Homo sapiens: one gene and its partners. The protein of the gene in region 2 purifies or fractionates together with the protein of the main gene of each other region. This does not show direct contact. Each region holds a gene or a part of one and is shown on either strand. Other genes may lie near its edges.

What was found.
Region 1: the proteins of PPM1G (region 2) and STMN2 fractionate together in Homo sapiens (co-fractionation; one large-scale study listed by BioGRID). This does not show direct contact.
Region 3: the proteins of PPM1G (region 2) and BASP1 fractionate together in Homo sapiens (co-fractionation; one large-scale study listed by BioGRID). This does not show direct contact.
Region 4: the proteins of PPM1G (region 2) and MAP1S purify together in Homo sapiens (affinity purification with mass spectrometry; one large-scale study listed by BioGRID and IntAct). This does not show direct contact.
Region 5: the proteins of PPM1G (region 2) and HADHA purify together in Homo sapiens (affinity purification with mass spectrometry; 2 studies listed by BioGRID and IntAct, with this or other methods). This does not show direct contact.
Region 6: the proteins of PPM1G (region 2) and ZNF577 purify together in Homo sapiens (co-immunoprecipitation; one large-scale study listed by IntAct). This does not show direct contact.
Region 7: the proteins of PPM1G (region 2) and TBC1D3G purify together in Homo sapiens (co-immunoprecipitation; one large-scale study listed by IntAct). This does not show direct contact.

Annotation. Positions count from the first base shown.
Region 1 is NC_000008.11:79,617,617-79,621,116, forward strand, and holds part of STMN2 (stathmin-2), read left to right. Parts: intron 1-3,325; exon of another isoform or gene 3,326-3,346; intron 3,347-3,500. UniProt on the Homo sapiens protein: Regulator of microtubule stability. When phosphorylated by MAPK8, stabilizes microtubules and consequently controls neurite length in cortical neurons.
Region 2 is NC_000002.12:27,389,092-27,392,591, reverse strand, and holds part of PPM1G (protein phosphatase 1G), read left to right. Parts: intron 1-3,500.
Region 3 is NC_000005.10:17,273,131-17,276,630, forward strand, and holds part of BASP1 (brain acid soluble protein 1), read left to right. Parts: intron 1-2,077; 5' UTR 2,078-2,086; coding exon 2,087-2,770; 3' UTR 2,771-3,500.
Region 4 is NC_000019.10:17,722,480-17,725,979, forward strand, and holds part of MAP1S (microtubule-associated protein 1S), read left to right. Parts: intron 1-1,646; coding exon 1,647-1,729; intron 1,730-2,569; coding exon 2,570-2,710; intron 2,711-3,349; coding exon 3,350-3,500. UniProt on the Homo sapiens protein: Microtubule-associated protein that mediates aggregation of mitochondria resulting in cell death and genomic destruction (MAGD). Plays a role in anchoring the microtubule organizing center to the centrosomes. Binds to DNA. Plays a role in apoptosis.
Region 5 is NC_000002.12:26,199,633-26,203,132, reverse strand, and holds part of HADHA (trifunctional enzyme subunit alpha, mitochondrial precursor), read left to right. Parts: exon of another isoform or gene 1-813; coding exon of another isoform or gene 814-900; intron 901-1,812; coding exon 1,813-1,984; intron 1,985-3,500. UniProt on the Homo sapiens protein: Mitochondrial trifunctional enzyme catalyzes the last three of the four reactions of the mitochondrial beta-oxidation pathway.
Region 6 is NC_000019.10:51,868,750-51,870,951, reverse strand, and holds part of ZNF577 (zinc finger protein 577), read left to right. Parts: 3' UTR 1-2,202. UniProt on the Homo sapiens protein: May be involved in transcriptional regulation.
Region 7 is NC_000017.11:36,322,384-36,326,683, forward strand, and holds the start of TBC1D3G (TBC1 domain family member 3G), read left to right. Parts: upstream 1-1,500; 5' UTR 1,501-1,599; intron 1,600-3,027; 5' UTR 3,028-3,028; coding exon 3,029-3,100; intron 3,101-3,262; coding exon 3,263-3,348; intron 3,349-4,300. UniProt on the Homo sapiens protein: Acts as a GTPase activating protein for RAB5. Does not act on RAB4 or RAB11.

The DNA of each region.
Region 1 (3,500 bases), on a different chromosome or scaffold from region 2:
GTAATTCATGTTTTAAATGTTTAATTCTGGCAGTCGGGCAGGGCTCTCTGTATAACCTCATTTGGAGATGACAAAAATCTAAACTTGAGGGCCTCGAGCCAATAAGTCTTCCTATTTCTTTACTCAAACATTTTCCCGCAATGGTGCTTTCTTTCAACTGTTTTTCTGGTGTATTCATAAATTCCAGATTCTCTATGGGAAGTAACTTTTATTGATTGATTTAACCCTTGTATAGCACATATAACATGCAAGGCATTGTTCTAAGAACTTTCCACATATTAACTGTGTTAATCACTTAATAATCCTAAGTAGGTTCTATTACAGATATGGAAACTGAGGCACAGAAAGTTGAAGTATCTTACTCAAGGTCACACAGTTAGTCAGATCCAGAATTTGGGCCCAGGCCATCTGGCTTCGGAATCCATCTTTCACCGATTGCTGCTAGTCTCATATCTGTTCCATGTTAGAGGTGAGCTCCCATTGCAGAGGTCACACCTGTGATATCACCATTTTATTTAAACAGACCAGAGATGGTCTTCTCCTTTCTGATCACAGACTCACCTTGAAGAGAAAATACTTCCAAATTGATGCCTAGTTTTAATAGCTTACCTGGGGCTTATTCAAATAATTGCCATGATTTAGGCTTTGGGAGAAAGAGAGCTATGAGGCCGTGTGGGTTGTAACGTATGAGACACATGGCGTTCTGCAGGCTCAGCACAGCATCGATTTCTGGTGGGAACACACTCTGATGACCAGTTCCAGAAATAACATTGACTTAATCTCCTCAGTCCCATCATGGTTAGCACATTTCAAAATGCCTCCTTAACTACTTCCATAGGCCAGAGATATTTAGTTTTAACATTTTGTTGAATAAAATAAATTTACACATTCACATTTAATATAACTATTAGATGTTATTTCAAGATTCTCTTCATATTACCATCAAAGCAGGCAGGCAGGCAGGAGAGAACTGTAGGAAGGTTTTGAATCCCTTGTGAAACATTTTTAATTATCTTTTAATAAAGGAATCAGGCCCTGTCATTTGTCAAGGAGACATTTGCAGTAGTAAAGCTTGTGTTTATAATATCCATTTTTATTAGTCATGATTAAAGATAACATTTGTGTACATTTGTTCTCACAAAACACTTTTATATGAGTGTAAAGGTTAATTAATGCATTTCAGCCATCATTTTGCTGGTCATGTGGAAATATAGCTTCTTTAGGAATTGTACTTAGAGTAGGAGCCACATATTATACTATAAAACCATAACAAAAATATTTTAAGTTTGTTCTCACTTGTTGTTGACCTCCAGAGTAAAATATTTAATACTCTGGAAAGTTATGGGTTTCAAAATTTATTTTATGGCAAGAAATAGATAATTACAGTTCTCATAGAGCACATTTAAAATAATTTATTTTTATAGGGCAAAAATATTGCCTAGGACTGAATGATTTTTTTTTTTTTACAAAGATTGTAAAGCAACGCCTGCAAGAGTGCCCATTTAGCAGTTATTCTTCTGGAATAATTGTATTTTGGATGTTGGAGTTCGCACATTAACCATTAGTACAAGTACCCAATATAACAATAGATCATCAGGATAATAAATCTGTCCATCTTTTAGTTGTATGTCTTTATATCAGGATAAAGAGAATTGAGTGAAATTTATCTAAACCTAGTCCCACAAATACTTTTACAAGAGAGCATGTTAAAGTGTAAATTAAATTTTTATTAGCATTCTACTCTGTCTTTGGAAGTTTTTTTTCCTTATGAAATGCAGCCATAAAGTTTAACTTCCATTAACAAAGCTGCTCACAGTAAACCTATTATAATAATAGTTTCCCAGTTTGGGCTTCCTAGTGAGGAGCAACCTAACTCACACGAAACAACCCCAACTTATAATATATTGACTGTTACAAAACTGAGACCAGAAAATCCCATCAAGATGGTACTGTTATCATTTCCAGACTCTCGGGAAGAACATTAATCATCTCAGGCACTTTTAGGATAGACTTATTGCAGCCTCCCTGGGAACTCTGCTTCAGAACATAATTATTTTTATTAATGCAGAGTTACTTTTTATTTCCAACAAAAATATCTATTGTTATTATTTAAGTCTTACAGCTTTATCTGAGAAATTCCAATTAGCACCCTTCTCATAATAAATATTCAAACACATGAAAAATTACCAAAGTTGTTCTAGTCTTTTAATGACATATTACATGATCCTGCACTCTTGTCACTTTAAAAATTATCTTTTTATTATATTTCTGATGATTTTTTTCTTATATAGTTTTTTAAAAGGAGCAGGCAAGCATAGAAGACTAAAAAATGTTCAAAAGAAAAATTAAATCGCATGATCTATCTATATGGGACCTTGTCATTTTTAGAAAACATTCACCTGCTTCATCCTTTTGAATCTTCATATAATCCCTCTGAGATGGGCATACTATACAAGTTGTCTTATTTAAAGATTGGTAAATTTAAGCTCAAATAATTTATTCAGTGGCAAGCCTCAGAGGCAGACTCGGAACACAGGTCTAATATATATTATATATATATTATAACATATAATATATATATTACATATAATAAAGTTGTGTATATTATTTACCTATCAAAATATTTATATGTAATATATAAATATGTTATATATCATGTATGTGCCTATTTCATACATATATACACATTCATGCAAAATAAGGTTTAGCACTCCCTCCACTGTCCTGTAATAAAACATGCACAGTGAGAATAGTCATACACGAGGCATATTTGTCTTCAGTTTAAAGTCATTGATAGTCAGTGTCACTAACTAAAGTAAAATAGATTGGAGCACCAACTTTGTTCTGAAGCCTGTGCCAGGTATTATGAGAACAAAAATAAAAATGTTCCTCACCCTTGGTGGATTTAGTCTTTTGCAGAAAAAAAGATCCTGTACATGTCAGAAAGTTCAATAGTAATAATGGTAATTTATAACTATAAATGGAAGTCACCATCTCACAATTTCACCATCTTAACAATTTTGTTAAACTGCCCTACAATATTACAAGATAGTACATAATGATACACTAGTAACATCAACTAGGAAGTACCAAGATCCACCAAAAGGCTGAAAAATTTAAATATTTAATGAGTCCATCAACCAATCTGGCCAGAGAATTCTTTAATTAAAATGCTTCCCAAATTTTACTGAGAATCAGCAGCGTTTGAGGAGCTAGCCTCCACCCCCAGAGGTTCTCACTCTATTAGGTCTGAAGCAGGTCCCATGGATTTGCATTTCTAACAAGCTCCCAGGTGGTGCTGATGAGGCTGATTCAGAACCACACTTGGAGTAGACCTAAAACAGCAGTGACCTGTAGGGTCCCCAAGCAGCAGGCCAGGACAGCATGTGAGTTACGTCCTCTGTGGAGCTCTGCAACAAGGCGTCAAGAGGTCAGAGTCTAAGTCCCCATCAGCTCTGCCCTTCTCCACCAGTGCTGCTGGTGCTGCATGGAAGGAAGAG
Region 2 (3,500 bases):
GCTGGCGTAGTGGCTCATGCCTAAATCTCAGCACTTTGGGAGGCTGAGGCGGGAGGATCACCTGAGGTCGGGAGTTTGAGACCAGCCTGGGCAACATGGTGAAACCCCGTGTCTACTAAAAATATAAAAACTAGCCAGTCATGGTGGCACACACCTGTAATCCCGGCTACTTGGGAGGCTGAGGCATGAGAATCACTTGAACCTGGGCTGCGGAGGTTGTAGTAAGCTGAGATCATGCCACTGTACTCCAGCCTGGGTGACAGGGAGACATTCTCTCTCTCAAAAAAAAAAAAAAAAAAAAAAAACAAAACAAACCAACAAAACAAAGTAATCCAGGAACAACAACATGATGAAGGACTGCATGCAGGACTCAGTGATGGATGGTGGAAGACAGCCAGGAAGTTAAGCATGACTCTGGTATTAAGTGTTGTCTGGGAGAGTTAAGATTCCATTTACAGAAATAAGACCTGTAGGGGAAGCTCTTGATTTTTTTTTTTTTGCAGACTGCTGATTTCCTGATTACATGTGTTAAGTTTGAGGTATAGAGAGAAAGAACATCCTGGCCGGGTGCAGTGGCTCACACCCGTAATCCCAGCACTTTGGGAGGCCAAGGTGGGCAGATCACGAGGTCCAGGAGATCGAGACCATCCTGGCCAACATGGTGAAACCCCGTCTCTACTAAAAATACAAAAATTAGCTGGGCGTGGCGGCGCGTGCCTGTTATCCCAGCTACTCAGGAGGCTGAGGCAGGAGAATTGCTTGAACCCGAGAGGCAGAGGTTGTGATGAGCCGAGATCGCGCCACTGCACTCCACCCTGGCAACAGAGCTAGACTCTGTCTCAAAAAAAAAAAAAAGAAAGAAAAAAAGAACATCCTGTAGAAACAGGCAGTCAGAGGTATAGAACTACACAGAATCCAAGAGATCTTTCAAGAAAAGTGACATGCAGCAAGAGAAACTATCAAGGGGGTAAACAACCTATAGAATGGGAGAAAATATTCACAAAGTATACATCCAACAAAAGTCTAATATCCAAAATCTATAAGGAACCTAACAAGCAAAAAGCAAATAACCCCCTTAAAAAGTGGGCAAAGGACATGAACAGATACTTCTCAAAAGACGTACATGTGGCCCACAAACATGAAAAAACGCCCATTTCTAATCATCAGACAAATGCAAATTAGAACCACAAAGAGATACCATCTCACACCAGTCAGAACAGCTTTTGTTAAAATGTCAAAAAATGAGAAACGTTGGTGAGGCTGCAGAGGAAAGCAGACACTTGTACACTGTTGGTGAAGGTGTAAATTAATTTAGCGTAGGCACAGTCAGTTTGGAGATTTCTCAGAGAACTAAGAGTGGAACTACCATTAGACCCAGCAATCTGATGGCTGGATATACGGCCAAAGGAAAATAAATCATTCTGCCAAAAGAACATATGTACCTGTATGTTCATTGTGGCACCATTCACAATAGCAAAAACATTGAATCAACTCATGTGCCCATCAGTGGCGGACTAGAAAAGAAAAGAAAATATGGTACATAGCCATCATGGAATACTATGCACCCATTAAAAATAATGAAATAATGTCTTTGCAACAACATGAATGTAGCTGGAGGGCATTATCCTAAGCAAACTAACACAGAAACAGAAAACCAAATACTGCGTGTTCTCACGCAGTGAGAGTGGGAGCTGAACATCAAGTACACATGGATGTAAAGATGGCAACAATAGACATGGGTCTACTAGAGGTGGTGGTGCGGCAGGGTGGGGGTGGGGGTTGTGTGGCAGAGGAACAGCTGAAAAACTACCTATTTGATACTATACCCAGCACCTGGGAAACGGGTTCAGTCATACCCCAAACCTCAGCATCACACAGTATACCTTTCTAACAAACTTACACATGTATTCTGTGATTCTAAAATAAACATTGAAAAATAAAAAAAAAACTGACATGGTTTGTACTGTTTAATCTGACATAATGGCTAGGGGAAATGAAGTCTGCAGAATGGCTGTTTACGGATGTTGTTGTTGTTGTTGAGATGAGGTCTCACTATGTTGCCCAGGCTTGAACTCCTGGCCTCAAGCAGTCCTCCTGCCTTGACCTCCCAAAATGTTGAGATTACATGCATGAGCCATTGCCAAAACGGCTATTTGGATTGCTGTTAAGGTTATTACATTCTCTGTGTAGTAAGACCTTGAAGGAGAAGGATTTGAGATCAGGAGTTTAAGAAAAAATGTTAATCTAGGAAGAGAGGATAATTTCTGTGTTTGGCCAGTTGCAATGGCTCACGCCTGTAATCCCAGCGTTTTGGGAGGCCGAGCTGGGCAGATCACTTGAGCTCAGGAGTTTGAGAAGAGCCTGGGCAACATGGTGAAGCCCCGTCTCTACTGAAAATACAAAAATTGGCTGGGCGTGGTGGCAGGTGCCCACTGTAATTTCAGCCACTCAGGAGACTGAGGCAGGAGAATTGCTTGAACCTGGAAAGTGGAGGATATGGTGAGCCTAGATCGCGCCACTCTACTCCAGCCTGGGAGACTCCATCTCAAAAAAAAAAGAAAACAAGATGCTGAAATGAAGTAATTACCACAGTCAATGTGATCCTATAACTTTGTTTTGTTTTAGAGATGGGGTCTCCCTCTGTCACCCAGGCTGGAGTGCAGTGGTGCATCATAGCTTTCTGCAGCCTCCACCTCCTGGGCTCAGGTGGTCCTCTTGCCTCAGTGTTCCGAGTAGTTAGGACTGACTGCAGGTGCATGCTGCTATGCCTGGCTAACTTTAAAATTTTTTTGTAGAGGCGGGGTCTTGCTATGTTGCCTAGGCTGGTCTCCAACTCCTGATCTCAATCAGTCCTCCTGCCTACCTTCCCAGAGCGCTGGGATTACAGGTGTGAGCCATCGCACCTAGCCAATCTCATAACATTTTATGACTAGCAAACTTAGTAGTTCTGATTCAGGCATAAATCAGTTGGTGGGGTTATACAAGGTTGGGTGAGTTTTTCTAGATTTCTAAGAGACCATGTTGAAATACTTGGCTCTGTCTCAGTAAGGGATAGAGAGAAGCAAAGGTGTGGGTAAAGGTTATGAGCAGACATGTAAAGGGGGCAAATTAAAGTGTTTAGGGAAGGTGAAACAGTTCCAAATCATAATATAGATCCCAAGCCTCACCAAGAAGTGAAGGAGAGGGTAATTGTGCGATAGTTCTCAGGACTGAGACCTCAAGGTGTAAGACGAATCTTTATTGTGGGTGGTCCTCTTTGAGAAAAAGAACAAAAAAGAAAAATGTGAAATGGGTGCTAAATTTCAGAGCAGAATATACATATATGTGTATGTGTGTGTGTATATATATATATATTTTTATGTAGCAAATTCCAGTTTACAAAGGGCTTTTATGTGTTTTGCATCATTACAACAGTTCTGTGATGATGTGGATGTGGTGGATATTGTAATTCCACATCACAGAGGATAAAATTGAGGCACACCATAAGGTAGCTGACCAGA
Region 3 (3,500 bases), on a different chromosome or scaffold from region 2:
TGAAATTATATTTGGTATAGGCCATTCGTGCATACTGACTAGTTAAGAATTCAATGGAAGAGTTATAAACTATAATTTAAAATATTGATCCGGTTTATTTCTTTATATTTTCATGTACTGCTCTGTGATTGCTTATAGGATGAAAGTATATTTAATTGTATTTTTTGCCATGTATGTTTGTTTCTACTTTTGAGGGAGAAATAATCAAAAATTAAATCCAATAGAGCCTGTCTGAAGCAGGTTATGACCAATTGCCACCCCCTTTTCTAAAAAAAAAGGACATGTAAGAGAATCTTAGGTAACATCATAAAGACCTTTCTTGAGAATATGAATAGTATTTTAGTCAAATTTCAGTTTATTGCTTTTCTCTTCCCCCAACTACTGAAGTCATTCCAGATTAGAAATTAGCATATAGAATGGTGAGAAAAATTTTGACTGAAGAATTCATTTTCTTCCACCAAAAACTCGACTTTTAATAAGATAAATATAGGTTATTTCACTGTCATGAATCTTGATTCCAAGGAAGTAATAAACAGCAAATCCTTCTTTTCTAAATAAGGGATGTATATATTTGCAAAGCTGGCAAAGGAGTGTGTACAGTTCTGCCAGTGGACCTGACCTGGGCAAAACCAGGTGGTTCCCCCCTGCTCTTTCTAACCTCCCTTGGGGTCCAGGGCAAGGCTGATGCTCTCTCCTGGGCTTTTCTCATTTATGGGACTAACGAGGATAGTATAATGTGATTTCTGCCACGCTTCATCCAGGAAAAGCAACCATTTTCTTTGCAAAAGCAACATTTCAGTGGATTTTCACTGATGTGTGGTGACAGAAAAATGGACTTGAAGGAAAAAAAATGCACCAAGAGTCTGTTTAGCTCTGGCCATGGTTCTGGATGAAATTTATTATTTATAAATTTATAATTTATTATTTATCTGGTTTAATGCTTGGTTTTCAGAGGAGAGAATTTCAAGATTCAAATACAAATGGAGTTTCTTGTGCCAGAATGAAAGCGGCAGCCTTAAGACAGTTGTTAATGACCATTGAACGTGCATGTATAGTTTGAATTCTAACCAGGAAATTGATAATGAACAACAATTTTATGTTACTATAGAACTACTTTTTTTAAGCTGAAAATACCTTGAAATGAATTTATGTCAGACACAGCCAGCAAGAGACACTGGCTTTTTCATAACTGCCCCTGCTTGGTAAGAAGATAGACTGAATCCTGTTTACCTTACGTGTTTGAAGATGTGTTTGCTGATATAACACACACACATATGTAGCAGAGAGAGTTTGTAGTTTGAGATTATTTTCTAGAAATCTGTGATTTGTGCTTTATTACAGCTGTGCAGTTTCTCCAGAAAGCATTTTAAAATTGCAACGCCTTTCTCTAGCTCTAACCTGGGTCTAAGATGGCTGCCCCTGCCATGCTGCACATGCCTGTTCCACGCTTGGTGTTTGCATCAGACATGGGATTGCAGATGAAAAACAGATAGCGCTCCTCCTCTCCAGGGTTGACAAACTTTGCCTCTAATCACTGATTCTTTGATCTCAGCTTATTATTCCCTCAACTGGCTATGATTAGAAGCTCCACAACTGAGCTCCTTAATTTCTTTTCGTGACACATTGTTTTAAAAACTCATTTAAAATTATTGCAGAACTCACTTAATTGAGCTCCTTAATGTTTTTGATTCTTTTTAAAATTTTTAACTTTTAATTGTGTAATAACAGTGTAATATAATAATTTAACTGATTACTTGGGCGTGGTGGGTACACCTGTGGGCCCAGCTGTGTGGGAGGCTGAGGCGGGAGGATCCCCTGAGCCCAGGAGGTGGAGGCTGCAGTGAGAAGAGATCTCACCACGGCATTCCAGCCTGGGTAACATAGCGAGACCCTGTCTCAAAAATAAATACATGAATAAATTGAATTTAACTGTGCCTAACTATAGTTTACCATGCCACCCCTTTGGGGTGTGCAGTGCAGCAGGCCCAGAACCCCTTGCTTTGCAAAATGCAGCTTTTTGTGGTCCCCACACTTGCCTAGTAACCGCCGTTTTGTTTTGTTTTGTGTTTGCTTCCAGAACTCCAAGATGGGAGGCAAGCTCAGCAAGAAGAAGAAGGGCTACAATGTGAACGACGAGAAAGCCAAGGAGAAAGACAAGAAGGCCGAGGGCGCGGCGACGGAAGAGGAGGGGACCCCGAAGGAGAGTGAGCCCCAGGCGGCCGCAGAGCCCGCCGAGGCCAAGGAGGGCAAGGAGAAGCCCGACCAGGACGCCGAGGGCAAGGCCGAGGAGAAGGAGGGCGAGAAGGACGCGGCGGCTGCCAAGGAGGAGGCCCCGAAGGCGGAGCCCGAGAAGACGGAGGGCGCGGCAGAGGCCAAGGCTGAGCCCCCGAAGGCGCCCGAGCAGGAGCAGGCGGCCCCCGGCCCCGCTGCGGGCGGCGAGGCCCCCAAAGCTGCTGAGGCCGCCGCGGCCCCGGCCGAGAGCGCGGCCCCTGCCGCCGGGGAGGAGCCCAGCAAGGAGGAAGGGGAACCCAAAAAGACTGAGGCGCCCGCAGCTCCTGCCGCCCAGGAGACCAAAAGTGACGGGGCCCCAGCTTCAGACTCAAAACCCGGCAGCTCGGAGGCTGCCCCCTCTTCCAAGGAGACCCCCGCAGCCACGGAAGCGCCTAGTTCCACACCCAAGGCCCAGGGCCCCGCAGCCTCTGCAGAAGAGCCCAAGCCGGTGGAGGCCCCGGCAGCTAATTCCGACCAAACCGTAACCGTGAAAGAGTGACAAGGACAGCCTATAGGAAAAACAATACCACTTAAAACAATCTCCTCTCTCTCTCTCTCTCTCTCTCTCTATCTCTCTCTCTATCTCCTCTCTCTCTCTCCTCTCCTATCTCTCCTCTCTCTCTCTCCTATACTAACTTGTTTCAAATTGGAAGTAATGATATGTATTGCCCAAGGAAAAATACAGGATGTTGTCCCATCAAGGGAGGGAGGGGGTGGGAGAATCCAAATAGTATTTTTGTGGGGAAATATCTAATATACCTTCAGTCAACTTTACCAAGAAGTCCTGGATTTCCAAGATCCGCGTCTGAAAGTGCAGTACATCGTTTGTACCTGAAACTGCCGCCACATGCACTCCTCCACCGCTGAGAGTTGAATAGCTTTTCTTCTGCAATGGGAGTTGGGAGTGATGCGTTTGATTCTGCCCACAGGGCCTGTGCCAAGGCAATCAGATCTTTATGAGAGCAGTATTTTCTGTGTTTTCTTTTTAATTTACAGCCTTTCTTATTTTGATATTTTTTTAATGTTGTGGATGAATGCCAGCTTTCAGACAGAGCCCACTTAGCTTGTCCACATGGATCTCAATGCCAATCCTCCATTCTTCCTCTCCAGATATTTTTGGGAGTGACAAACATTCTCTCATCCTACTTAGCCTACCTAGATTTCTCATGACGAGTTAATGCATGTCCGTGGTTGGGTGCACCTGTAGTTCTGTTTATTGGTCAGTGGAA
Region 4 (3,500 bases), on a different chromosome or scaffold from region 2:
GGCTCACACCTATAATCCCAGCACTTTGGAAGGCTGAGGTGGGTGGATCACCTGAGGTCAGGAGTTCGAGACCAGCCTGACCAGTATGGTGACACCCCATCTCTACTAAAAATACAAAAATTAGCTGGTTGTGGTGGCAAGCGCCTATAACCCCAGCTACTTGGGAGACTGAGGTTGGAGAATTGCTTGAACTCAGGAGGCAGAGGTTGCAGTGAGCTGAGATCGTGCCACTACACTTCAGCCTGGGCAATAGAGGGAGATTCCATCTCAAAAAAGAGAGAGAGAGAGAGGGAGGGAGGGAGGGAGGGGGAGAGGGAGGGAGAGAGAGAGAGAAAGGAAAGAGAAAGCTAAATGTGATAAGGGCGAGAGAGAGAGAAAGGGAAAAGAAGGAAAGAAAGGAAAGAAAGTTAAATGTGATAAGGGCTGGCAACACTGGAGGGTCTCTGCCTCTCAAGACTCAGCCTTGTTCACAGTTCAGTCCTGCCTCAGGGGCCTTGGCTGGTGCTGTACCCTGGTCCGGGTTGGCCCTCACCGGCCCCCACCCCGGCTCTGGCTCCTTGCCACCCCCCTCTCACAGTACTGATGTTTAAAACACATACGGGCCCTGGGGGACAGAGCAGGGTCAGGATCCCAGAAACAGCCCTACTTCAGCCCCGGCCCTTATGCTGCCCCACCCCTAGCTGAGTCCTGCCTCAGGACCTTTGCTCCGGATGTACCCTCGTCCACGTTCGCCCTCATTGGCCCTCCTCGAGCTCTGGCTCTCTGTCTGAAAAATAAATGTGGCCGGATGGGTGCAGTGGGTCAAGTCTGTAATCCCAGCACTTTGGGAGGCCGAGGCAGGCGGATCACCTGAGGTCAGGAGTTTGAGACCAGCCTGACCCACATGTTAAAACCCCGTCTCTACTAAAAATTGAAAAAATTAATGGGGCGTGGTGGCGTGTGCCTGTAATCCCAGCTACTCGGGAGGCTGAGGCAGGAGAATTGCTTGAACCCAGGAGGCGGAGGTTGCAGTGAGCCCAGGTTGCACTGTTGCACGCCAGCCTGGGCAACAAGAGCAAAACTCCGTCTCAAAAAAAAAGAAAAGAAAAAGGCCGGGCGCGGTGGCTCACGCCTGTAATCCCAGCACTTTGGGAGGCCGAGGCAGGCGGATCACGAGGTCAGGATATGGAGACTATCCTGGCTTACACGGTGAAACCCTGTCTCTACTAAAAATACAAAAACTTAGCCGGGTGTGGTGGCGGGCACCTGTAGTCCTGGCTACTCGGGAGGCTGAGGCAGGAGAATGGCGTGAACCCGGGAGGAGGAGCGGAGCTTGCAGTGAGCAGAGATTGCACCACTGCCCTCCAGCCTGGGCGACAGAGCGAGACTCCGTCTCACAAAAAAAAGAAGAAAATGGTGGCATCACTCCCAGGGGTGACAGCTGCAAACCAGGCCCTGCGCACGATGGGGCCCTCTGGTTACTGCCTCTCTTAGGCCAGCTGGGGTGGTTTGAGTTTCTCTTTCTTGCCTGGTCCTGACCTGCAGCTCTGCCGTGCGCCTGTTAATCTCCATATGATCCCTGGGTGGGTTCCCAGAGGGGTTCATGTTCCCTGAGGGTCACACGGGGAGGCAGGATTTGACTCCGGGACGGCCTGATTCCCCCACAGGCCAGCGGAGCCTGCACCACCGTGGAGACAACCTGGAGACCCTGGTCCTCCTGAACCCATCAGACAAGTCCCTGTATGATGAGGTAGGGAATGGCTGACGTCCTGGAGGGGGCGGGCTGCTGGGACCCGTGCCTTCTCTGTCTTCCTGTCTCGTGTCCTTGTCTTCATGCTGCCCCAGATCCTCTCAAGACACCCGGCACCACACTTCTTCGCCCACGAAGCCTTCCCTGTGGCTTCAGCCTCCGCTTCTTCCCTCCTCTGGGGTGGGAGCAGAAAAGCCTGGACTTTGGGAGGGAGGGGAGGGTAAGCACTCCCAGCTCAGGGCCCAGGACAGCGTGGGTCTGGAGGTGGGAAGGCCAGAGCAGACAGGTTTTCCTCCTGTGGGTTCCCTCCGGCTAGGCCCCAGGAGTTGTCTGAATCGACTCACTAACATTAACCAGCTTGTGGCCATCTGTACTCTACCAATTATACATCCGGAAGATGAACCAGACAGAGCCCTGGGGCATCCCACTACAGACCTTCTTACAGGTTGATTCCTTGGATCAACTTTTCCCTTTTGTTCCCTTGAGGGGCTCTCAGTCTTTAAGAGACAGAGTGAGACACAGACACCCCCAGCCCTGTGGCATCAGGGCTGGGCTGGAGGGAGAGGTGGACTAGAGAGAGCCCAGAAAGGGCAAGTAGTGCCTTCAGGAGGAAGGGACATCAGAGCTGGGCTTTGTAGGATGAATAGGAGTTTGCTAGGGTTGCTCCAGGGCCCAGCAGGAGACCTGGAGACTGCCTTCGTAGCTAGTTGAGCACTGGGCTGGTCGTGGGGTGAGGACAGGAGAGGGGTGGTTATGTATCGACTCGAGGCTACCCCAAAGAGGACTGCTGGATACGTCACTGCACAGAACGGGTCCTTTAGTGTTCACCCCCTCCCTCAGCTCCGGAACCTTCTGTTGGACCCTGCCTCTCACAAGCTACTGGTGTTGGCTGGGCCCTGCCTGGAGGAGACGGGGGAGCTGCTGCTACAGACAGGGGGCTTCTCGCCTCACCACTTCCTCCAGGTCCTGAAGGACAGAGAGGTAAGCCACCCCTTTGCCATCCCCTGCTTCCCCAGCTCTGAATCCTGACTGGGGTGTATCAGGCTGTGTGGCACCAGCGACCTGCTGTTTTCCATGGCCTGGTCTCCCCATCCTCTGTAGGATGGCAGTGGTGACACATGCCTCCTGGCTGTCTGGGGTCAGTCCCATTGCCCGCGAAAGGGTGTGGTGTGAGCTGAGTTTGTAGGTCAGCAGATGTCCCAAAGTCCTGATGAGGGATGGAGCCAAATGGGTCCTTCCTGGTGCCCGCAGTCTGGGTAGGACACATGGGCAAAATGGCAAACCTCACTTTCACATTGTAGTGGGGCACTTAAAAATGGTGAGAAAAGGTTCAGTAGACAGGTGGGGCGTGGAGAGTCTCCTTGGAGGGAGCTGTGCCCTGGGAGGAGAGAATGGTGAGTGTAAAGGCCCTGGGGCAGGGAGGCATTTGAAGGGGAGGGAGAGACAGGAGGTGAGGCCAGATCAAAGAGCCTTGTGGCGCTGGAGAGGGTTGGGTTTTGGCGGGAGGGCCCTGAGGAGCAGGCCCTGGGGGAAAGGATGAGGGTGTCCTCGCCCAGTTTTCCCACCGGGCTAGGTGTTGCCTGGCTCTAGGTGGTCCCTTACCACTCCTCCTCCATACAGATCCGGGACATCCTGGCCACCACGCCCCCACCTGTGCAGCCGCCCATACTCACCATCACCTGCCCCACCTTCGGTGACTGGGCTCAGCTGGCACCCGCTGTGCCTGGCCTTCAGGGGGCGCTCCGGCTCCAGCTGCGGCTGAACCCCCCGG
Region 5 (3,500 bases), 1.2 Mb from region 2:
GATTCTGACCAAAAAAATGATGTGTGCTAGATAGCAGCAGTGCCCTGAAACTAGCATGCAAGCATCCCAAACAGCATTCCATACCATCACCAAAGTAAGAAATTGTTGCTCTAAAATAGTTTCCTCCCCCAGTCTCTCTTGAATAGTGTCCTGGGTTCCCCTTTTCGTCTTAGAAACATCAGGTTCTGGCGAGTGCCGCTCACCACACTGCTGACTTGGGACAATAGTTCCTGTCCTCTCTTGGGAATAGTTTAATCAGGCATTAGAATTAGAGCAACTGATAATGTTTTGAATGCTGACAAGTATCTTGTTTGCTGACTGCTGTCATGATTGTCAAAAACAAAAGCTTTGAGCCCATACTTTTAAGACCTTATTTGATGTTTTTGTTTCTTTTGAGACAGTCTCACTCTATTACCGAGGCTAGAGCACAATGGTGCAATCTTGGCTCACTGCAACCTCTGCCTCCCGGGTTCAAGCGATTCTCATGCCTCAGCCTCACGAATAGCTGAGACTACAGGCATGCGCCACCATGCACAGCTGATTTTTGTTTTTCTTATAGAGACGGGATTTCACCATGTTGGTTAGGCTTGTCTTGAACTCCTGGCCTCAAGTGATCCGCCTGCTGCAGCCTCCCAAAGTGCTGGGATTACAGATGTGAGCCACCATGCCCAGCCCTTAAGACCTTCTTTGAATACTCCTTTGTATTTATCTTGTGGCCTTAATTTTGCTTTTGGTTAAGGAAATTAGTGAATGGGGTTTAGCTTCATTCTTCATTTAGAGGAAAACTGTAGGTAATTTATTCTGAAAGTGTGGTCAGACGGAATCTAAGAGAACCTGTTTCCCTTGGCGACGAAAAATAATCAGTTGAATGTCTGAATAACAGGAATCCTTTTCTGCTCCCTATGGGAAAAAAGAAACCTTGAGTTAATATTTTATGTAATCAGTGCAATGTGCTACTAGGTAATGAGTGGGAAGTAGATGGAGAATATAGGAAATAATGCTTGGTCTCTGTTCTTTAGAAGATTACAACCACAGGCTGGGCGCGGTGGCTCACGCCTATAATCCCAACACTTTGGGAGGCTGAGGCGGATGGAACACGAGGTCAGGAGTTCAAGACCAGCCTGGCCAAGATGGTGAAACCCCATCTCTACTAAAAAAAAAAAAAAAAAAATTAGCCAGGCGTGGTGGTGGGCGCCTGTAATCCCAGCTACTCAGGAGGCTGAGGCAGAGAATTGCTTGAACCCAGGAGACAAGAGGTTGCAGTGAGCTGAGATCACGCCACTGCACTCCAGCCTGGGCAACAGAGCGAGACTCCGTCTCAAAAAATAAATAAAAAAAAAAAAAGATTACAACTACAGAATAACATAAAATTATATATTTGCGATAAGCAAATATAAACCATGTGGTCTCAGACACACTTTGGCTGCTTCCCCTGTCATAGGTAGAGAATTACCAGAACTCCTCTTTTGTTTTGCCATTCTAGTATTCATGTTATTTACTCCTCTTGGCAAATTTAACTGGTTTAAGAGTGATTTAGTTTACGTAAATTGGGCATTTGGAGGCATTCTATGGTAGAAAGAATGTGTACTTGGGAGTTAACATGTCTTTGAATGCTAGCACCCTCCCTTATCAAGCTATTTGACCACAGGTCCCTCTAAGACTAAACAACTTGAAAGTCTCCCTCAAAATGGGAGTAATAGAATAACTACCTCACAGAGTTGGTGAAAAACACAGGTGTGCTCTGGCCCATGGACATTCAATAAACGTTAGTTTCCTTTTCTTCCCATCTAACTAGGAATGTGTTTTTTCTAGATTGAATGACAAAGTGAAGAAGAAAGCTCTAACATCATTTGAAAGGGATTCCATCTTCAGCAACTTGACTGGGCAGCTTGATTACCAAGGTTTTGAAAAGGCCGACATGGTGATTGAAGCTGTGTTTGAGGACCTTAGTCTTAAGCACAGAGTGCTAAAGGAAGTAGAAGCGGTAAGCAAGGGGCTGTTGTACTTGAATCCTAGTGTAGTGAACAGAAAACACAGAGATTTTTTTTTTAAAGGAGCTATAGGAAACTCATGATTGCTTTTATAAAAAGGACTATTCAAAGGCTGGGCATGGTGGCTCACGCCTATAATCCCAGTAGTTTGGGAGGCTGAGGTGGGCGGATCACGAGGTAAGGAGTTCGAGACCAGACTGGCCGATATGATGAAACCCCATCTCTACTAGAAAATACAAAAATTAGCCGGGCATGGTGGCACACACCTGTAGTCCCAGCTATTTGGGAGGCTGAAGCAGGAGAATCACTGGAACCTGGGAGGCAGAGGTTGCAGTGAGCCGAGATCACGCCACTGCACTCCAGTCTGGGTGACAGAGCGAGACTCCATCTCCAAAAAAAAAAAAAAGACTTTTTGTTATCAAACGTTAAGTTTTTATGTGTGCTCATGCACACTGCATATGTTATAAAGGTCAAATCTAAATTCTAAAGGAAGAAAATGAGGGTGCGTTCACCTTATTCATGTAGGAGCTCTGTCACCCAAACATACAGATAACCTCACAGAGTATAGCCAGATGCTTTGAGATTTTTTGGTTAGCCGAAAGCCAAAAACAAACCTCTTCAGGTCTAAGGCTGCAAAGGAAATAGGGAAGACAGTTCGTCCAGATGCTTGTTCTGTGGAAATGCTGCTTTGGCCCAGCTCCCAAATGTTCTCCATAGGCACTTCTTGAGATGGGCTGACATGAACAAAACAAGTACTTGAAGTGGGGAGTAGGAAGAGTAAGCCCCGAGAAGGAGTAATAGCAGTAATTCAGGGATGAGGTAGGACCAAGGCCTAAGCTAGTCTACAGTTGGATAAACAGAATGTGGGTTACTGAAAGGTGAACATGAAATGATTCTGACTTGGCAACATGCTGGATATAATGAGCAGTGAGCTCATTACAAAAAATAAGAGTACCACAGAGCAAAACTCCGTCTCAAAATAAATAAATAAACAAACAAACAAACATTATCTTCTCTTATTGCCCATAGAGCTAACAAAACCCATTCCTTGGACAATCTTCCACAGGCATGATCTCTAGACCACCCCGTTTCGGTTGTCCTCTCTAGTATCTTCCTCATGTCTCCGTGTTCTACTGCTGTGTTTACAACTATCTTTTCACAATTCTGCAATCTGGGCAGGGCTCTGCAGAGACAGTGGTGCTTAAGTCCATTGATTTCAAGGCTGGGGTCACTCCTGGGCTGCATTCCGCAGGAAGCTCGGTTGGGGCACCTCACTGCTTCCCCCACATCTCTCATAGTCCATCCTCACTTAGTCGTCTCACCACAACTTCTTTGTAGCGTGGCTGCAGGCTTCCAAGAGAACAAAAGCAGAAGCTACTGAGCTTCCTAAGTTTATTGTCAGGAAGAAAAAAAGATAAATAATTTAAAAAATAAAAAAAGAGGCTACCGGGCCCCACAGGTCTAGGTAGGCCTGGAACTGGCAGGGTAACTTCTGCTGCATTGTGTTGA
Region 6 (2,202 bases), on a different chromosome or scaffold from region 2:
ATGCACAAAATATATGAATGAACTTCATCAGACATTGAGAAGTAAAGGGCTTAGGACAGCTTTCCATGACAGAAAGGAAACAATGAGATGAGCCTTATGATTGCCCCAGCTTAGTGCCTGGAGAAAGTTTCCAGTCTGCAGGATTGGGAGGAGAAACCCAAGCAGATCCCAGCCATCTCTCTGAATTGAGACAGAGTTTAGGGTTTGAGGAATTCAAGGTGGCCCAAATTCATGAATTGGATTATTGGAGAAGAGCTGCACTCAAGAATTGAGAGTTCTGTAGAGTTTCCCCCACAAGCCTTTTGAGTCATAATCAGCATATGTATGTGAGAAACCCCCCCTAGGCTGGAGGAAGAACAGGAAGAAATGAACACGCAGAAAAATCCTTGGATTACACACAAGCATTTCCACCAGCTGGAGTGGAAACGCCTCCTAACATTTGGAGAATCACAGTGGACCTTAAGTAAGGAGTATTGCCTCTGTGGGTGGCTCAGATTTGCTCTACAGTAAAGGCTGCCTCGAACTCTCCTCACAAAGCATACATGCAAGCCATGAAAAGGCCATACTTTCCAAGTAAGTTAGCAATTTTCCAAACAGAGACTAATAAAGAAATAGAAAGCAATCTACCAGTCAGTAATTGACCATGTCTGGCATCCAATACAAACTTACCCAGGTGTGCAAAGAAGCAGGAAAATATAACCCCATAACATGAAGAAAACTCAGTAGAGACCCAGAAGTGGCACACTTATAGCAGAAAAGGATGTTAGAAATAGCTGCTATAAATGTCCCATATGAATCAAGTGGATTATAAAAACTATAATTTACTGATGGGTTCCCCCCACCTGAACAAGGGGCAGATGAAGCTCAGTCTACGCACTGGACCCAATGCCCCTAGGATGTTAATCCTCCCAGGGAGGGACCAGAAGGAGGCAATTACCAGCAATCAGCACCAGGTTCCCTGAGAGGGAGAAGCAAGCTCAGCTGAATTTGTGCAGTGTAGTCTACCCGGTGTTTAGCCCCTCTTTGCCTTCTCTGGGAACTGAGGCTTTTGAACAGGGCTGCTGAGCTTCCTAGGAAGTGTAGTTTGGCCATGGGCAGTGCTTGAGACACCTGTGCTGGGCAGTTGAGGTTTATGGGAAGTACAGTTAGGAGGCCTAACAACTTATTCTAGTTAGCGGCTGGTGTGTCTTGACTGTTTAGCCCCTGTAGGGGTTTCTGGCACACATCTGCCTTTGGCCATTTTTCTCCACATTGAAGGGGTCCAGCCCGTCCACACCTGTGGGTGTTTCTCGTCAGGGGGGACGAGAGACTGAGAAAAGAAATAAGAAATAAGACACAGAGACAAAGTAGAGAAAGAACAGTGGCCCCAGGGGACCGGTGCTCAGCATATGGAGGACCCGCACCGGCACTGGTCTCTGAGTTCCCTCAGCATTTGTTGATCACTATCTCTACCATCTCGGAGAGGGGGATGTGGCAGGACTATAGGGTAATGGTGGGGAGAGGGTCAGCAGGAAACATGAGCGAAGGACTCTGTGTCATAAATAAGTTTAAGGAAAGGTGCTGTGCCTCGATGTGCACATAGGCCAGATTTATGTTTGACTTTACACAAATATCTCAGTGCAGTAAAGAACAGTATCGCTGCCAGCATGTCTCACATCCAGCCATAAGGTGGTTTTCTCCTATCTCAGCAAATAGAATGTACGATTGGGTTTCACACCAAGACATTCCATTCCCAGGGACGAGCAAGAGACAGATGCCTTCCTCTTATCTCAACTGCAAAGAGGCCTTCCTCTTTCACTAATCCTCCTCAGCACAGACCCTTTATGGGTATCGGGCTTGGGGACGGTCAGGTCTTTCCCTTCCCACGAGGCCATATCTCAGGCTGTCTCAGTGGGGAGAAACCTTGGACGATACCCAGGCTTTCTTGGGCAGAGGTCCCTGCGGCCTTCCGCAGTGCATTGTGTCCCTGGGTACTCGAGACTGGAGAATGGTGATGACTTTTACCAAGCATACTGCCTGCAAACACATTTTAACAAAGCACATCCTGCACAGCCCTAAATCTAGTAAACCTTGAGTCAACACAGCACATGTTTCTGCGAGCACAGGGTTGAGGCTAGGGTTACAGATTAACAGCATCTCAAGGCAGAATAATTTCTCTTAGTACAGATCAAAATAGAGTTTCTTATGTCTTCCTTTTTCTAC
Region 7 (4,300 bases), on a different chromosome or scaffold from region 2:
CCATCCTACTGCAGGCCTGTGTGGCTGCTAGAGAGGCCAGGCTCCTTTCCGCACCCCGAGGCTGCCCGATATGCTTTCTGCATCCTGTAGAAAACTGACCCACTATTCTCATACTGGTGCAACTTCTTCCATTACCTCAAAACTGGACAACGTGAACTTGTTTCTTGTCTCTTCTTGCTAGGGCTGTCACTGGGACAGTCCGAGATGGGGGGGTGGGGGGAGACAATGGATGAATGGATGGATGAATGGACAGTAGTCCAGGGAGATGTCCCTGTGTGTCCTGAACTGGGACCTTCCTCCAATGAGAAGCCTTCCTGAGTGAGTTTATACAGTCATCCCTTGGTATCCATGGATTAGTTCTAGGGTCCCCGGGGATGCCAAAATCCATGGATCCTCAAGTCTCTGACATAACATGGCCTAGTATTTACATATCAGCTATGCACATCCTCCCGTAGACATTAGACCATCTCTGGATTATTCATGATGTGTAATACAATGCAGATGCTACATAAATGGTCGTGATACTGGATTCTTTAGGGAATAATGACAAGAACAAACTCTGCACATGTTCAATAGAAACATAACCGTCCAATTTATTTTCTGAATATTTTCCATCTGCTGTTGCTGAATCTACAGATGCAGAGCTCCTGGATACGAGAGCCAAGTGTGCTTTGAGAGTAGGGTGGGTGAGGTTGCTAATGAGTACAGGGGAGCAGGTGTTGATCAGGAGGACCCTGCACTGGGGCATCTGGACGTCCTGCCTCAGGACTTGAGACTCCAGTTGGATGGCACAGGCAGACTCAGCCCAGGTCAAAGCCGTCCCCTTGAAGTTTCTTTTTATCCCAAGCTCTTTCTGGCCCCTGGAATTTGGCATCCCCTAGGCCCTGTGTGGAAGGACAGATGAACCAGGTTTTAGATAACATGTCTAGAAGAGTGAGCCCCTACTGTGTGCCCGGCACTTTCCCCACAGGATCCTCTAGCTAGAATATCCAAGGGTCATGGAGAGAAATACCCAGTTAAAATATCAGAAATGAAAAAGCGATACCATTAGAGACACTAAAAAGACCATTAGGTAATAGTACTAGCTTTTGTATTCTGAGATCCAACAGCAGCAGTCACTTCCCTCCACCGCTATGTGTATCCCAGGACCACCCTGGGCAGGGAGGGCTGAGGTTAGGGAGCAGCCATGGATGCTCTGATGCTGGCCCTGGGCCTCGGGGGTGACAGTGATGAGGAACTGGGTGCACACATGAGTGGGGCAGCCGGGCCTGGCCAGAGAAGCAGCACACACGTGCACAGATGTGTTTACCCACATACACATGTGCACGCACGTGCACAAACACATTGCAGGCAGGCATGTTGACGCCTCAGGCAGCGGAGGACCCTGACTCTGGGTGCTGCTGACCCGGGCAAGGCCCCACTGTGATTCGTGCCATGACCTCAGAATGTCACTGGTGCTTAGCACCTATCTGCTCTCTGGTCTGCCTCAGTGGTCTACAGCAGTTACACACAGGCAGTGGTATCTGTGAGCAGCTCTGTGGACTCAAAGGTTTTCTCCCTGAGAGGCATGACCCAGGCCAGCTGATTCATCAGAATCAGGTGAGCGTGACCTGCTCTCTTCCCTCCAGGCGGACTTGGGGGCAGTGGCTACGGTGCGGGCGGTGTTGGCCTCTGTGGGGCAGCTACCGAGGAGGGTCATCCCTGAGCACTCACCAGGCGCCCGTTCTACACTGCCCGTGTAGACGATTGGCTCTTTCGTCTCCATGGTGGCTTCGTAGAGTGGGTGCTGTTCCCAAATGTCCCCATTCGACAGATGAGACGTCTGGGGTCAGAGAGGCAGTAACCGGCCTGGGAATCCGGACATGACCCTGAGTTTTGCTCTCAGCCCTGCCGTGTGCTGTGCTGGAATTCAGGCCTGAACCCTGTGACCTCCCTGCCCTAGATCCCAAATCTGCCCAGGTTTCCCATCCCGATGGGGCAGAGCCTGGTCCTGGCAGAGCCACTGGTATAGAGCCACTGGTACAGATCCACTGACGGTCCTCAGAACACCTCTGTGCCCTAAGCTGGGTCCTGATGGTCGCTGTGGGCCCCACTGAACACACATGGTCCCTTGTCCGGGGGAGCCTGCTGCCCTTGGGCAGCTGTGGAAAATGAAGGAGCCCTGGAGGGCTGGCTGAGGGGAGACTATCTTCCCTTGTGTTCAAAGGGGTCCGGGCACTAGGGTTCTCCCCAGGTATTTCTTGCTCTGCGTGGTCCTCTTGAGGCCTCGCCCTCCTTTTGCCTCGAGTATTCCCAGGAGGGACGGTCCATCCAGCTGTTCTCCAGGACCAAGGACCCACTGTTCTTCCTCAGTGACCCAGGAAAATGAAGCCTCCTCCTGTTGGGACGGCTCAGAATGGTGGACTCCACAGTCCCTCCGCGAGAGACGTGGTTTCCATGCGTACAATAGATCTTCCTCATCCCCCAAACCCAACACCCTCCTGCTCAACAGGCGTTATTCCTAAAGTGGCTTCACTGTTCAGACTGAAGAGCCACGGTAGCCAAAGTGATGAGCGGAGTAGAACCGAGCAGTCGGGAGAGATCTTGTTCCCTGTAGGAAACTGGGCATCGCTGAGGCCCTGAGCATCCCAGGAGGCCGATTGCACAGAGACCTCTGGTCGCTGACCCCAGTCTGCCTCCACATCCCTGGAATAGCCCATCATGGGCCCTTCACCCTTGGCAGGTGGAAACCATTCAACCTGCTGGGGCCGGTGTGTCCCCATTTCATGGCATTGGGGGACAACAGGATTCTCTGTCTAGGTCCCACTGTACTCAAGTCCTTGGGAAGATGCCCACCCCTGCTTGGGACTTGAGACTCCAGAGACTGGAGCAGCTGTGGGCCACTGGGTCTGGCCCCTTTTTCCCTGGGGGCGGCGGTGGAATGGGGGTTACGCAGCCAGCCAGCATCTGGGAGCCCGGCGAGAGCGGTTCAGGTGTTCTCCGAAGCCGCCGCGTACAGTGTGACCTTTAGACAATTCTGTCTCACAGGATGGACGTGGTAGAGGTCGCGGGCAGTTGGTGGGCACAAGAGCGAGAGGACATCATTATGAAATACGAAAAGGTACAAGTCGGTCTGCTTCTTGGAGGGAGGCCTCTTCCAGTGTGCCCTGGTCAAAGGGTCCTGGGCTCCCTAGGAGCACAGGGCAGGGACGGGTGGCCAATGCCCCCAGGCCCTTGCACCCTTTACCTTGGACCCCTCACCAAGGCTCCCTCTGGGCTACAGGGACACCGAGCTGGGCTGCCAGAGGACAAGGGGCCTAAGCCTTTTCGAAGCTACAACAACAACGTCGATCATTTGGGGATTGTACAGTGAGTCCTCTGCACTCCCCTCACCCCTAAAGCACCTGTCTCAGCTCAGGGATGGGTTTGCTTTTAGAAAGGCCTTTCTGACGCAGGACATGTCTCACCAGGTCGGGTCAACCTCCTTTCCAGGGACAGAACTCCTCCCTGACTCCCCTGCAGGTCCAGCCCGAGGTTGTTAGGCCAGAGGTGTGGGGCCCATCTAGGGAGCCGGTGGGAATGGAGACTGGGCTAGGTCAGGCCCCTGGGCGCTCAGCAGTTCTGTCGGCAAGTGAGCACAAGAGGAGCGGGGCAGCCTGAGGGTCTGGCCCTGTCTACTTGGAGACAACCCCGGTGAGATGCAAGGGTTATGGCCACAGGGTGAGGGGACGCCTGGCCCAGCCTCAGGGCTGTTGTCCAGCAGGTCTCTGAGGGCCCACCTGCCCCTGTTCTCCCCCATTCCCCTAGAGCTACAGCCCTCACTGTCCCGTGAGGGGAAAAGGCATGGTGACAATGGGGGCTGTAGCCCTAGGAGAACGGGGGAGAAGATGGGCAGGGCCCCGTTCTGGGCATCTCACGGTGAGGCCAGGGAGGCAGCAGGGCTCGCGGCTAAAGACCTGGGTCTGGTGCTGGGAAGGGATCTGGGGCCAGGTAAGAGGAGCCCAGCCAGGAGCCCATCCCTCAGGGATCACAGGATGGAGAGACAGAGGATCCCTGGGGAGGTAGGGCGGGAGGGAGCTGACGAGCGGTGCCACTTCTGAAACGCAGGGTGTGTGGCTCGGGTGCAGGGAGAGGCAGGTGGATGCTGGGAGGTCAGAACCTGCAAGGGCCTTGGGGCTGTCAAGTGGGGTGGGCCCCTGGTGCAGCCAGAGTACACCGGGCAGGTCTCAGGGCAGGCTCCCTTGACCCTGGCGGGGGGATGTGGTCACTCCCTGAGGGACTCCTGTCAGGGCCCGGTCGCCCACCCTGGGCGGCCCCCATC